Linked DNA regions of Homo sapiens. The protein of the gene in region 1 purifies or fractionates together with the protein of each later gene. This does not show direct contact. Each region holds a gene or a part of one and is shown in the gene's direction. Other genes may lie near its edges.

Evidence for each region. Proteins that work in one complex are often made in the same cells at the same time.
Region 2: the proteins of ST7L (region 1) and MACO1 purify together in Homo sapiens (co-immunoprecipitation; 2 studies listed by BioGRID and IntAct, with this or other methods). This does not show direct contact.

Annotation. Positions count from the first base shown.
Region 1 is NC_000001.11:112,573,557-112,581,141, reverse strand, and holds part of ST7L (suppressor of tumorigenicity 7 protein-like), read left to right. Parts: intron 1-1,765; exon of another isoform or gene 1,766-1,835; intron 1,836-2,724; coding exon 2,725-2,797; intron 2,798-4,053; coding exon 4,054-4,156; intron 4,157-5,908; coding exon of another isoform or gene 5,909-6,016; exon of another isoform or gene 6,017-6,028; intron 6,029-7,585.
Region 2 is NC_000001.11:25,454,552-25,462,136, forward strand, and holds part of MACO1 (macoilin), read left to right. Parts: intron 1-2,101; coding exon 2,102-2,280; intron 2,281-3,839; coding exon 3,840-4,341; intron 4,342-7,585. UniProt on the Homo sapiens protein: Plays a role in the regulation of neuronal activity.

The DNA of each region.
Region 1 (7,585 bases):
ATATGATCGTTATAATAGTCTTATGATGTTGTGGGACAAGTATTTTTACTGTCTCCAATTAACTGAATAAGGGAACTGGAATTTAAGAAGGTTAAAGTATTGGAGTAAGGTCTCCCAGCCAGTAAAAGGCAAATCCAGGTGTTTGATTTCTTAGTTCATTAGTCTTTCCATGGTAACAATTCAATATATATTGGTTATTTTTATTTTTTTATTGGAGACAGAGTCTCACTCTGTCGCCTGGGCGGGAGTGCAGTGGTGCAATCTCGGCTCACTGCAAGCTCCGCTTCCCAGGTTCACGCCATTCTCCTGCCTCAGCCTCCCGAGTAGCTGGGTCTACAGGTGCCTGCCACCATGTCTGGCTAATTTTTTTGTATTTTTTTTAGTAGAGATGAGGTTTCACCATGTTGGCCAGGATGGTCTCGATCTCCTGACCTCATGATCTGCCTGGCTCGGCCTCCCAAAGTGCTGGGATTACAGGCGTGAGCCACCGCACCTGGCAGTTATTTTTATTATTATGTTATAACAATACCAGTTTACCACACATGAAGTTTGGAGAATTTTAAAGACATAAAGCCTCCCTTCTTATCCTGAGAGAGGCATCAGCTTTTAACCTCAAGCTGAAAATTTGGGGTTACTATGCTTCTGGTGGTATCTTTCACTATACGAGAACACATGTAAGTCACATTGAAGGCTGGACACAGTGGCTCATGCCTGTAATTCCAACCCTTTGGGAAGCTGAAGCGGGTGGATTGCTTGAGCTCAGAAGTTGAAGACCAGCTTGAGCAACATGGTGAAAACCCATTTCTAAAAAAAATATTTTAAAAATTTAGCTGGGTGTGGTGGCATGCGCCTGTAGTCCCAGCTGCTCGGGAAGCTGAGGTGTGAGGATCTCTTGAGCCTGGGAGGTAGAGGTTGCAGTGAACCAAGATTGCACCACTGTATTCCAGCCTGGGTGACAGAGTGAGACCCTATCTCACAAAAAAAACAAAGAAAAAGGTCGTTTATTCACATTTGTCCTGTTATAGGTTCCTACCCATTTGCTTGGGAATCCCCATGACTTGGGAAGTTTGAAATGTGTTATACTTGGAAAGAGAAGTTTACTTCTTTTAAACATCTGGAATTCTTAAGCAATGCTTCAGAATAGTGTAGGCTCATGGAGAAATTTGTGAGAAATTCTTTCCATATGTAACTTACTGGATACATGGCCTGCTTATAATACTTATGATGAGCAAGCTTAGGGACTGAATGTAACAAACTGGAATAGGACCTGATTCATTAAAAATAAAATAAAACTAAAACTAATAAAGCATATCTAAGTTGATATGCTTCTGTATTTTCAGTTATTTTCATGAGTCCCAGTTTTTACCATTCCAGAATCTGGAGGAAGTTGAAAGCAAATTTACTTCCTTAGTTCTCCATTTGCTAGTATGATTCTGGGATCAGAAACATCTTCTGATAGCATTATTTTGGATATTCTTTTGAGAATGATTGATATAATTAATTTACCTACAGTTCCAGATGAAATTTTTATTTTCTAAAAAATAATAATTTAAGAAAAATAAATCTAGGAAGAAGAAAAATATCACCCTCGGTTGAATCAACCTGGATTTAACTACTGTTAAATATTTTAATTTTTTTCTAATATTAGTTTTTCTCTATGAATAGGTGAAGGTTTTACATAGTTCTAATTATACCATGCCTTTTCCCCTGAACTTACTATAAGCAGGTTTTTTTTTTATTGTTTTTTTTTTTTTTTTTTTTACAGAGTCTCGTACTGTCACCCAGGTTGGAGTGCACTGGCACAATCTCGGCTCACTGCAACCTCGGCCTTCCAGGTTCAAGTGATTCTCCTGCCTCAGCCTCCTGAGTAGCTGGGATTACAGGCACCTGCCATCACACCCGGCTAATTTTTTGTATTTTTAGTAGAGACAGGGTTTCACTATGTTGGCCAGGTTGGTCTCGAACTCCTGACCTCGTGATCCACCCACCTCAGCCTCCCAAAGTGCTGGGATTACAGGCATGAGCCACCACGCCCGTCCATAAGCAGGTTATTGTAGACATTGGTTGAACGCATTTCACCGTTGTGCAGACGGCTTTCATAGACATAATTTCATCTCGGTCAGAAAATATCATTATTTTGAGAGGTGAAAACTGAGGTCAAACAAGTTGCTACTAGCTCAAAGATGCTTAGCTGGTAAATAGTAAGATAAAGATTCAGATTCAGCTTTTTCAACTTCATATACGGGTTTTTCCTACTATATTATAGATTTTTCAACATCACGTCCAGGTTTTTCCTATATAACTATTGAATTTGCATTGCATTGTGAATTATTCTTTTTTTTGTTTTGTTTTGTTTTGTTTTTTTTGGAGACGGAGTTTCACTCTTGTTGCCCAGGCTGGAGCGCAATGGCGCAATCTTGGCTCACTGCAACCTCCGCCTCCTAGGTTCAAGCGATTCTCCTGCCTCAGCCTCCTGAGTAGCTGGGATTACAGGCATGCGCCACCATGCCTGGCAAATTTTTGTATTTTTAATAGAGACGGGGTTTCTCCATTTTGGTCAGGCCGGTCTTGAACTCCTGACCTCATGATCCACCCGCCTCAGCCTCCCTAAGTGCTGGGATTATAGGCATGAGCCACCATGCCTGGCCGTGAATTATTCTTATTAAAAAATTGTCTCAATACCTTTTTTGTAATTCCTACCTAAATTGAAAATTATCGTTACAGATATAAGCCTTCCAAAGTCAGCAGCAATCTGTTACACAGCAGCACTGTTGAAGACAAGGACTGTTTCAGAAAAGTACGTGTTATAAAAACTACAATGATTTGGAAAGACTGCTAAACTCAGTATTATGCTTGTCCTCTACTGACTTTAAACAATGCTGTTTTCCACTCTACTTCCTTCTGAATAGCCCTGGATCTTCTTGGGCTTTTAGGCTTCTTGCTGTGTGTAGTGGAAAGAGCAAAGTTTTTAGAGCTAACCTGAGCTCAAATTCAAACTCTACCACATTTTAGCTATAGGACTGTAGGCAAGTTAATCATTTTGAGTCTCTCCTTCATCTGTAAAATGAGACTAATATTGCAGGAGGGTTGTAGGAGGATTATGTGTGGTAAGTGCCTAAAGCAATATCTAGAAAGAAAGTACACACACCAAATAGTAACTATGATGATGATGATAAAGTGTGTAGTAGGGAAATAGGCTTATGTTATCTCTTCTTAGAGTATAATTCTGAGTTCTTCTGCTTTTCTTGTATTTTTGGCTACTCTTAGTGAATTCTCTTTATTGTGCAGGTAAGATACTCAGAAACCAACCAAATAGTGGCCATTTTCTTTCACCTTAGATTTTTATGCTTTGATATGAATTAGAATGGAATTTTCCATTTGTGTCCTCTCAAATAAGAATTTGATAAGAATGTACTGCTATTTCATGAGATTCTCTGGATATCACTGTGTTGCATTTATTACTTTATTACCTTTCCTAAAGTGTACCTTCAGTGGACTTCTCCTGAAGGCCTTCTTTACCTAAGTTTGAAGACTTTCATTCCTTATGCTGCTTTGTTTTTTCTATGTTGAACCCACAAGACTATACTTTTTTTTTTTTTTTTTTTTTTTTTGAGACAGAGTTTCACTCTTGTTGCCCAGGCTGGAGTGCAATGGCACAATCTTGGCTCACTGCAACCTCTGCCTCCCGGGTACAAGTGATTCTCCTGCCTCAGCCTCCCATGTGTGCCTGGGACTACAGGCACACACCACCACACCCAGCTAATTTTGTATTTGTAGTAGAGACGGGGTTTCTCCATGTTGGTCAGGCTGGTCTCTAACTCCTGAGCTCAGGTGATCCACCTATCTCAGCCTCCCAAAGTGCTGGGATTACAAGCATGAGCCACTGCGCCCGGCCAGCTTTAATTTTTTTTTTTTTTTTGTTAGTCCTCTGGCTTTGTTTTTGGCCATCTCCAGAAACTTCTTTTGATTCAAGGGGCTGTATTATTATCTAAATTCATACTTTTTTTCTTTTTTTTAGCATATTTATTTTTTCATTTTGTGGTTTTCTTGTAGATTCTCTCCAGAAACAGCCTCCAGAAGAGGATTAAGCACAGCAGAAATTAATGCCGTGGAAGCAATTCATAGAGCTGTGGAATTTAATCCTCATGTTCCAAAAGTGAGAAATTTTATGATAAAAATACTACCTTTATTTAAGTTTATCAAATTGATGACAGTTCGTAGACCAGAGTCTGGGTCACCATAATTTGGTGCAGAATTGTTTTAATCTGCTATATTTTGATGCTTATTATTCACCTTACAGGGGACGTTGAAACATTTAGGCATTTAGAAAGGTAGATAGGAGCAATAGTTAGCTATATGCTTTGTAATTACTATCAAAATATAATTTGAACTGTGTTCACTTAGCTGTTCTTTTAGTATAGTTGTAGAAAATAAATAATGGGTTGGTCTTAATAAAAGATTATTCATATTTCTTATCACTAAATCAAATTTCCTGTTACTGTGAAAGCTTTTTCTAGACAGATGCCTGGGTTTTGAACTAGGGTTGGGTAGACAAAAACTGAAGACAAACAGATTAAAATAATCAATGATAGGAGGCAGATGTGGAAATTCCCAGAAAAACTGGCTGATGCTTATTTCGTCCCCAATGAGTCTATATACTTGCTTTGTCTTTATATTGTACACCTTGCAGTTATACAAATTATTGCTTAATCTTTGTGTGTTACAACACAAAATTAAATTTTGGGGTTTGGGCTGGGCACAGTGGCTCATGCCTATAATCTCAACACTTTGGGAGGCCGAGGTGGGAGGATTACTTGAGCCCAGGAGTTTGGGACTAGCGGCTGGGCAATGTGGTGAGACCTCATCTCTGCAAAAAATATAAAAATTATCTGAGTGTGGTGATGCTTCCTGTTGTCTCAGCTACTTGGGAGACCAAGGGGAGAAGATTGCTTGAGTCCAGGAGGTCGAGACTGTAGTGAGCTGCAATCACGCCACTGCACTGAAGCCTTGGGTGACAGAGTGAAACCCCATCTCAAAAAAAAAATTGGGGTTCTACAAACAATGCCCCATGTTAGGAAGTATAGACAATTCAAGAATAGATGCCCTTACTACGGAAAGTAATTATAGCTATTGATTCCAGTGAAAGGGTGTTAATAGAGCTTGGAAGCTAAAGAGCTACAGTAAAGAGATTAATTGCTAAAAGATAATTTCCAAGAAAAGGATGTTGTAAGCCTGTTAGAGTAAGTAAAGATATGGTTAAGAAAAGTACTTAAATCCAAGAAAGAGAGTCAACAAATATTTATACCATTCTCTCATTAAGTGACACTGGTTCCATAAATTTAAAGACAGCGGTTCACCCATATCTATGGTTTTGCATTCCATGGTTTCAGTTACCACAGTCAGCCTCTGTCTGAAAATATTACATGGAAAATTCCAGAAATAAACAATTCATAAGTTTTAAGTTGCATGCCGTTCTGAGTAGCTTGATGAAATCTTACACCATCCCCCTCCATCCAGGCTAGTACATGACTCATCCCCTTGTCCAGCATATCCAACACTGTCTATGCTACCCGCCCATTAGTCACTTAGTAGCCAACTCGGTTATCAGATCGACTGTCATGGTATCATAGTGCTTGTGTTCAGGTAACCTTTATCTTACTTAATAGTGACCCCAAATGCAAGATTGACATATTGTTATAACTGTTCTATTTTATCATTAGTTATTGTTATTAGTCTCTTACTGTGCCTAAATTATAAATTAAATTCTATCATGGGCATATATTTAGAGGAAAAAACATGGTGTACGTAGGGTTTGGTACTATTTGTGGTTTCAGATATCCACTGGGAGTCTTAAAACATATGTACTGAGGATAAGGAGTGAGTACTGTAAACTTTTATTTTTCTTTAGACAGAGTTTTGCTTTCGCCCAAGCTGGAGTACAGTGGCAGAATCTTGGCTCACTGCAACCTCCGCCTCCAGAGTTCAAGCGATTCTTCTGCCTCAGCCTCCCAAGTAGCTGGGACTACAGGTGCGCGCCACCACGCCCAGCTAATTATTTTGTATTTTTAGTAGAGACGAGGTTTCACCATGTTAGCTAGTATGGTCTCGATCTCCTGACCTTGTGATCCGCCCGCCTCAGCCTCCCAAAGTGCTGGGATTACAGGCATAAGCCACCGCGCCCAGCCTTGTAAACTTTTTATTATGAGTTCTACTACACATGCAGCAAAGTGTATGAGACAAAAATGTGCATCTTAATGATTTATTACAAAGTAAATGCTTGAAAACTATCGAGATCAAGAAACAGAACATTATCAACCCACAGACGCCTACCTGACTGCCCTTTCCCATTACAACCTCCCTTCCTACCTAAAGGTAACCACTATTCTTATTCATTTGTATTCTTATTTATTAATTATGTTTATTTCCTCCCTTTATGTTTTTTATCTGTACTTTTTATTTATGGATTTTTTTTCTTTTTTTTTTGAGACGGAGTCTTGTTCTGTCGCCCAGGCTGGAGTGCAGTGGCGTGATCTAGGCTCACTGCAAGCTCTGCCTCCCGGGTTTATGCCATTCTCCTGCCTCAGCCTCCCAAGTAGCTGAGACTGCAGGCGCCCGCCACCACGCCTGGCTAATTTTTTGTATTTTTAGTAGAGACGAGGTTTCACAGTGTTAGCCAGGATGGTCTCGATCTCCTGACCTTGTGATCCGCCCGCCTTGGCCTCCCAAAGTGCTGGGATTACAGGCGTGAGCCAGTGCGTCTGGCTTTTTTTTTCTTTTTAAGACAGACTCTTCAGCTATTCGAGAGGCTGAGGCAGGAGAATTGCTTGAACTCAGGAGGCAGAGGTTGCAGTGAGCCGAGATAGTGCCATTACACCGCAGCCTGGGTGACAGAGTGAGACTCTGTCTCATTAAAAAAAAAAAAAAAGTCCGGGCGCAGTGGCTCACACCTGTAATCCCAGCACTTTGGGAGGCCGAGGTGGGTGGATCGCCTAAGCTCAAGAGTTCAAGACCACCCAGGGCAGCATGGTGAAACCCTGTCTCTACTAAAAATACAAAAAAATTAACCGGGTGTGGTGGGGTGCGCCTGTAGTCCCAGCTACTTGGGGGGCTGAGGCAGGAGAATCACTTGAGTCCTAGAGATGAAGGTTGCAGTGAGCCGAGATCGCACCACTGCACTCCAGCTTGGGCTACAGAGTGAGACTCCGTCTCAAAAAAAAAAAAAAAAAAAAAACAGGAAAAGAAAAAACGAAGACAGGGTCTTGCTCTCATGCCCAGGCTGGAGTGCAGTGGTGTGATCTTGGCCCACTGCAACCTCCACCTCCTGGGCTCAAGCGATCTGCCCGCCTCAGCCTCCCAAAGTGCTGGGATTACAGGTGTGAGCAAACATATGCCTGGCCCTGGATTTATAAATGAGTTAAAGAGTGGTCCCTGTTTATTTATTCTGTGGAATAATTTGTATAAAATTAGAATTATTTCTGCCCTAAATGATTAGTAAATTTGTTATTAAAGCCATCTGATTCTTCAGTTTTCTTTGTGAGAAGACTTTGAGTTACAAATTTCATTTCTTTAATAGTTTAATTACAAA
Region 2 (7,585 bases), about 87 Mb from region 1:
TGGTTATGCAACCTCTGCCTCCCGGCTTCAAGCGATTTTCCTGCCTCAGCCTCCCAAGTAGCTGGGATTACAGGCGCGTGCCACCACACCTGGCTAATTTTTGTATTTTTAGTAGAGACAGGGTTTCATCATATTGGCCAGACTGGTCTCGAACTCCTGACCTCAAGTGATCCACCTGCCTCAGCCTCCCAAAGTGCTGGGATTATAGGTGTGAGCCAGTGCACCCAGCCAGTATTATATATATTCTTTGTCTATAATTCATTTCACTGTAGAATGTTAAGTTCAACTGTAAATTTATTCTTAGAAATTTTACATGGATCCAGAAAGCAGTACAGCATGGTTGGAAAGACCATGAGCCCCCCCTTTTCAGGCAGATGAGTGAATCCCAGCTCTGTCCTCTGACAGCTTGTGTTGCCTTGTCACTGCCTCTAAGCCATGGTTTTCTTACCTGCCTCACTGGGTCATGGGAAAAAGGAACTGAAGTGATACATGTATTCAACTTAATGCCAAGCACATAGGTGTCTGATGAATGTTAGCTATGTTTATTATAATCAGGTAATGATTCCAGAAGGTCTTGATGAAATATATGGCTAATTCATGAAACTTAAAATAATTTAGAATTTCCTTAGCCTATTTATAAAAGTAAGAGAATATTATTAATAATTTTTGAATGAATATTATTTCTCTTTATGTTAATGAATATTAAGATATTATTCATTTAATCTTAACCATGAAACATTTTTGAAAAATGAGCTTGGTTCTTATTTAGATCTATTGTGGAACTTACCACCTAATGTATGTTTCTCCTAAACACACCAATTTTTACTAATATTTATGGCAGAAACCAAAATAAACAGTAATCAACTAAAAAAATACTGTTTCCAGTATTTTTAGTCTTTTTACAAACAAGTAAATTAAATGAACTTGGTCAGTAAAACATGTCACCGTAAGTTTGTAGTGAGACCACATTTAGACTAATTATAAATTGATACATTTTCATGTTAGTGAAACTTATATGGGCTTGACAGTGTTTGCAGAGGCTTTGAAATGATGTTAGGCAGGCTGGTAAGTTCAATGAAAATATTTAACTTTCTATCCCAGAGATTAGAGTTCTAAGTACAGCTGGTTTAATTTGGTGATACAAACCAAATCTTGGCACTGATCATATCGGATACTTATTTAAATGATTCTTGAATTTATGTATGACAGAATTTATATATGACAGAGTGTTTGTGAACCAATCTTCAAGGAATAGCTGGTGACAGTACCCCTCAGGCAGCAAGAAGATTAAATTAGTCACCTGAATTTGACCCTGCCTTCTAGTATTGAAAATCAAATGATGTCCTTGTGATTTTTTTTTTTAACACTTATGTTTACTTTTGGCTACCTGTAAAGTCTCTACCCTTTTAGTTTTTAAAAGCATACAGGCCAGGCGTGGTGGCTCACACCTGTAATCCCAGCACTTTGGGAGGCCAAGGCGAGTGGATCACGAGGTCGAGAGATCGAGACCATCCTGGCCAACATGGTGAAACCCTGTCTCTACTAAAATTACAAAAATTAGCTGGGCATGGTGATGCAGGCCTGTAGTCCCAGCTACTCAGGAGGCTGAGGCAGGAGAATCACTTGAACCCGAGAGGCGGAGGTTGCAGTGAGCCGAGATCACACCACTGCACTCCAGCCTGGGCAACAGAGCGAGACTCCATTTCAAAAAAAAAAAAAAAAGGGTACAGGTATCTGCCTAAGTTCTAATGCATAAGGCAGTTTCTTCAATATTTCTTCAAAGGCATTATTAGCCACTGTATCTGACAGTCACTGTGGTGACTCCTTGAATTAATTTGAAGAATGCCAACGTCTAATGGGAAGTGTCGTCTTACGGTCTAGCAGTCCTGTTGTTCCTGGGGGTTTTGTTCTGTGTGCCAGTTGCTTCTGATTTCCACAGTAGACATTACATTTATTTGTGTGTCTAGTGAATGCTCTTCTCAACTACCATCATCAATTAGAATTTATTTTTAATTTTTAAGCCATAGGTATTCTCATGTGCTTGAGGCACATGTGGTTCATTTTAAACCTACAATTACTGGCTGGATTGTCTTCTTTCTAGTATTGGGTACCCTGTGGTAACTTTGGGGTTTGGCTTCAAAAGTTACGTAAGCTACAAAATGCGGTTAAGGAAGCAAAAAGAAGTACAAAAAGAGAACGAGTTTTACATGCAACTTCTTCAACAAGCTCTCCCTCCAGAGCAACAGATGCTACAGAAGCAAGAAAAAGAGGCCGAGGAAGGTAGGTCTTTACCCTAAAGCTGTTGGCTCAATAGGCTAGTCATTATTTTGTCTCTTGGTAGAATTTTCTTTTCTGGAAAAGTAGCTAGGATTTTGTTTTTTTCTGTCTAATGGTGTTCCTCCTCAGGGTCATTGTTTTATTTGGTCAATGAAATACAGATGGTGAATGAAGTTTTTTACATACTGTCTGAAGACTATGTGTTTAAATATGTTTATTTTATTATTTTAAAATATATTTATATCTTTTTTATATTTTAATTCTGATTTTTTTTTAAATTTAGTTTTTTGAGACAGGGAGGGTCTCACTCTGTTGCCTAAGCTGGAGTGCAGTGATAACAGTTAGGGACCACTGCAGCCTCAAACTCCTGGGAGCAAAGTAATCCTCCCTCCTCAGCCTCCTGAGCAGCTGCTACCATGGGCACGTGCCACCATGCCTGGCTAATTTTTTTTAATTATTTTTTTGTAGAGATGAGGTCTCACTGTGTTGTTCAGGCTAGTCTCAAACTCCTGATCTCAAGCAATCCTCCCACCTCCACCTTCTGAAGTGTAGGGATTACAGGCATGAGCCACTATGCCCAGCCTGTTTTACGTATTTTAAAATATATATTCTCAGCAACAAAATACTATGGAACTATGTGAACTGGTAATTGAAGCAAGCCAAGAACCAAAGTATAAGCACAATGGAGATGTAGACATGTAGAATTGAACTTCAGAAGCCAGATGTCTTCTGAATAGAGCCAAGATGGATAGGTCGTGTTCTAAATGCTTCATATAATGTAATGCAGATTTTAAATTGAACCATTTCTAATGGAATCTCTCTCATGGGCATTTGACCAATAGAAATAGATAATTGGCAGTAGCTAGTTTCCATTGGTTTGAAAGTTGAAAGTTTGAGGTCATGTTTTTATTTAATATATTTCAAAATTTTCTTTTTGTGTGATGTGGTGCAAAAATATCTCTTCAAGTAGACCTTAATAAATTGGAATGTGTAGACCCAATACACAAAATTCTTTCTGAGTGGTCTGGTAAATGATACAGACTTCCTTATTACCTCAACACTAGAGTCCAGAAAAAGGATAGATGTCCTGTATCCTAAAATTATTCCTCTTCTTTTGTTTCATTTAACCTCTTTCTTTTCAGTAAAGTTATTAACAGTTCGTTTACTCCAGGCACTTAAAAAAATATGACTTCTTAGGATCTGCCTTTGTCCTCTCACCTCAGTGATAGGCGAGTTTGATTTGACTAATACACAAAGTGTGACCTAATTATAAAACCCTGATCTTGTTTTCAAGACTAGACCTTTAGTGGCCATCATTTTCATAAATGATGATGATTTTCTAAATGTAGAGTTTCTCAAATGTATTTGGATTTTCTTCTATTTTTTCCTACATCTTCTAGTAAACTATGAGGATTTGCTTCTTGATTAGCGTATAATGAGTGTGCAAACTAATGTGAATTTCTTAAGTGTAGATAATAGTTTGTTGAATTAATCTGTGTTGTTAAACAACTAAATATTCCGGTGGGGGCTTTTTGTTTGTTGGTTTGTTTTTGGTATTGTAGCAGCCAAAGGATTACCTGATATGGATTCTTCGATCCTTATACACCACAATGGAGGTATCCCAGCCAACAAAAAACTCTCCACAACTTTGCCAGAGATAGAATACCGAGAAAAAGGGAAAGAAAAGGACAAGGATGCCAAAAAACACAACCTTGGAATAAATAACAACAATATTCTACAACCTGTAGACTCTAAAATACAAGAGATTGAGTATATGGAAAACCATATCAATAGTAAAAGATTAAATAATGATCTTGTGGGAAGTACAGAAAATCTCTTGAAAGAGGACTCATGCACTGCTTCCTCAAAAAATTACAAAAATGCCAGTGGAGTTGTGAACTCTTCACCTCGAAGTCATAGCGCCACAAATGGGAGCATTCCTTCCTCATCTAGTAAAAATGAGAAGAAGCAGAAATGCACTAGCAAGAGCCCAAGTACACACAAGGACTTAATGGAAAACTGTATTCCTAATAACCAGCTAAGCAAACCAGACGCACTGGTCAGGTAAGTGCACATGCTGCATCCTTACTAACACTTTCCAGTAAACTTGACATACTCTTGACATACTCCCATATGGGCCTGTAGGGATTGTTTGTAATCAGATATTGTGACTAGTGACGTGTGGTGTTTTACATGAGTTTGTTGGCCACCTTGTGTTATTGTGTTGAAGCATTGATTTCAGCTCTTTGCAGTGTTCTGAATAATGAGTGACACTGATTACTTCCCACATGTGACAAATTGACCTGTAACTTGATTCTTCTAGTCGTGTTGTAAGGCACTTCTTTGGTCCTTGTCCTTTTCTGTTTGCATGTCCAGAGTTCTCTTGGCGTAAACACAAAAAGAAGAGTTTGTGCTTGTTCACGCAAATCTCTGTCAAACAGATATACATTGCAGGAGAGGGGTGAGAAAGTTGTCCTTACTACTTTGTGCTTGTTTTGTTTTTCTGTTTGTTTTTCTGCACTTAGAATATGAATTATCCTAGATAACTCTGGGAAAGTTAGATTTGAAAAGCAATCTCTTTCACAAAAATCCATGGAGAAACAGTGTTAGACACAAAGTTTAATTAGGAATGTTGCTTTTCTCATTTTAATTAAAAGAATTTTTTTTTTTTTTTGAGACGGAGTCTTGCTCTATTGCCCAGGCTGGCACGATCTCGGCTCACTGCAACCTCCGCCTCCTGGCTCCAAGTGATTCTCCTGCCTCAGCCTCCCAACTAACTGGGATTATAGGTGCTTGCCGCCACGCCAGGCTAATTTTTTTGTATTTTTAATAGTGACAGGATTTCACCATGTTGCCCAGGCTGGTCTCAAACTCCTGACCTCAGGTGATCCACCTGCTTCGGCCTCCCAAAGTCCTGGGATTACAGATGTGAGCCACCGTGCCCGGCCATAAAAGAATAACATTGTTTTATTACATTGACTGGCTCAGACTTAATTTTACTATATTTTATATGGCTTATGTTAGGCAAACACAAATATGTTCCTTTCACCTCAGATCTTTAATTTGGAAACTGAGATCTAAACTGGAGCTTTTTTGTGTGTATGTAACTCAAGAGGGCAATTGAAACTCTCCCCTTCCAGTAAGTTATATTCTTCTTTCTCTGGCTTGCTTTAGGCAGCCCTTTAGGCAGTCCGTTTATTCTAGGAGGGAGGCTTTCCAGCATTATAAATGGTATGAACTAGATTATTAATTTGTTTTAATTTTCTGATTGGCAGTTAAACTAAGCGAGGTATATTTGGGTTCTACTAATACAGGCTCTAGAGGTTTCACAGCCCCCAGGCTACTTTTGGAAGTGTGCTATTTGCTGTTGCCTGGCTGGCATCCATATCCATTTGTTAGGACATTCTGGCCATTGTGCCCAGCAGAAAAAACACGTGGAAGAGAACTCTCCTCCAGATGCCCATGGGAGAAAGACCAATTAGTTTACCTTCTATTTCAGAGGAATATCCCACAAATTCACTAAATGCTATACACAAAACATCTGTCACAGCTATTTACCATCCTTTCTCCTACACATGTTTTTTTTTTTTTTTGAGATAGGATCTCACTGTTTTGCCCAGGCTTGAGTGTAGTGGCGTGATCACAGCTAACTGTAGACTCTACCTCCCCAGGCTCAGGTTTTCCTCCCACCTCATCCTCCTGTGTAGCTGGGACTACAGGCGCATGCCACTATGCCTGGCTAATTTTTTAATTTTTTTGTAGAGAGGAGATCTCGCCATGTTGCCCAGGCTGACACAAGTTTAGTAATAGCGGTCAAGCTATTACTAAATGATGGTTTGTGATATTGATTGACTCTACTATCTGATCTGCTTTTAGTAGAGAAGTTCAAGGACCCAGATGGCTAATTGTCCAGTAAGCTGGAGATGATGACATGGGTCCAGTGCCCCCGTGCCTACACCTAAGGAGTATGCTGCTTCTTGTGGTCACTAATGCGTACTCTGCCTTGACCTACAGTGTCCCAGGTATTACTCTGTTTTGGAGAACTACTTACTATCAAATGACTAATAGACAACATTATATTTAAGTAGGTTTATAAGCTCCCATGGTATTATTTTCAACTTTTAATGTTATAAAAAATAAGGGGATCGATAGACTGGATTAAGAAAATGTGGCACATATACACCATGGAATACTATGCAGCCATAAAAAATGAAGAGTTCATGTCCTTTGTAGGGACATGGATGAAACTGGAAACCATCATTCTCAGCAAACTATCGCAAGGACAAAAAACCAAACACCACATGTTTTCACTCATAGGTGGGAATTGAACAAGGAGAACACATGGACACAGGAAGGGGAACATCACACTCCGGGGACTGTTGTGGGGTGGGGGGAGGGGGGAGGGATAGCATTAGGAGATACACCTAATACTACATGACGAGTTAATGGGTGCAGCACACCAACATGGCACGTGTATACATATGTAACAAACCTGCACATTGTGCACATGTACCCTAAAACTTAAAGTATAATAATAATAAAATAAAATAAAGAATACTATGCAAAGAATATAGGTTTTTAAATCACACCTTGGTTGGATCCTGGACCTTCTATTTACTGTCTGAGTGGCCTTGGGCATATTATTTGACCCCTCTGATTTCCATTTCTTGGAAAGTTGAGATAAAACTAATAGAATAGTGCTGTTGTTAAGGTACAGGCATTCAATAAATGTTGGTTCTCTTCCTTCCCCCCCCTCAAAAAAAAGGGTGATGTAAATATCCAATAATGGGAGAAATTTAAAATAAATTATGGTCCATCCATTTGATAAACTTTTCATATAGATACTATAAAATCATACTTTCAAGCCATATTAAAGAATATGGGGAAGTATGTCAAAGCATTTCATGAATAAAGGAGAAAGCAATTTAATGAAAAACAATTTTTTCTAATATACATAGAAAAATGATTTAAAGGGAAAATAACCAAATTGTTAACAATAGTTGTTATCCCTTGATAGTATTGGGCATTTATTTTTTCTTTTTATTTTCATACATTTTCACATTTTTCTATGATGAACAGCAATGAAAGAGTTTAAAAGGAAAAGCCTCTATCTGAGCAGATTATCCAGCTTGGTTGGAGGAGGTCTTATCTTACTTCCTCCCACCCTTCCTTAGCCGTCGCCTCTGTTTCCTCATTTGACTTCATGTATGTTTTGATCCATGTCAATAAGATTGTGACTGATTCAAACCTGACATGTTTGAGTTGTTAGCTAGAGAGTGGGTTTGTTATCCAGATGGAGCAGCCTGGA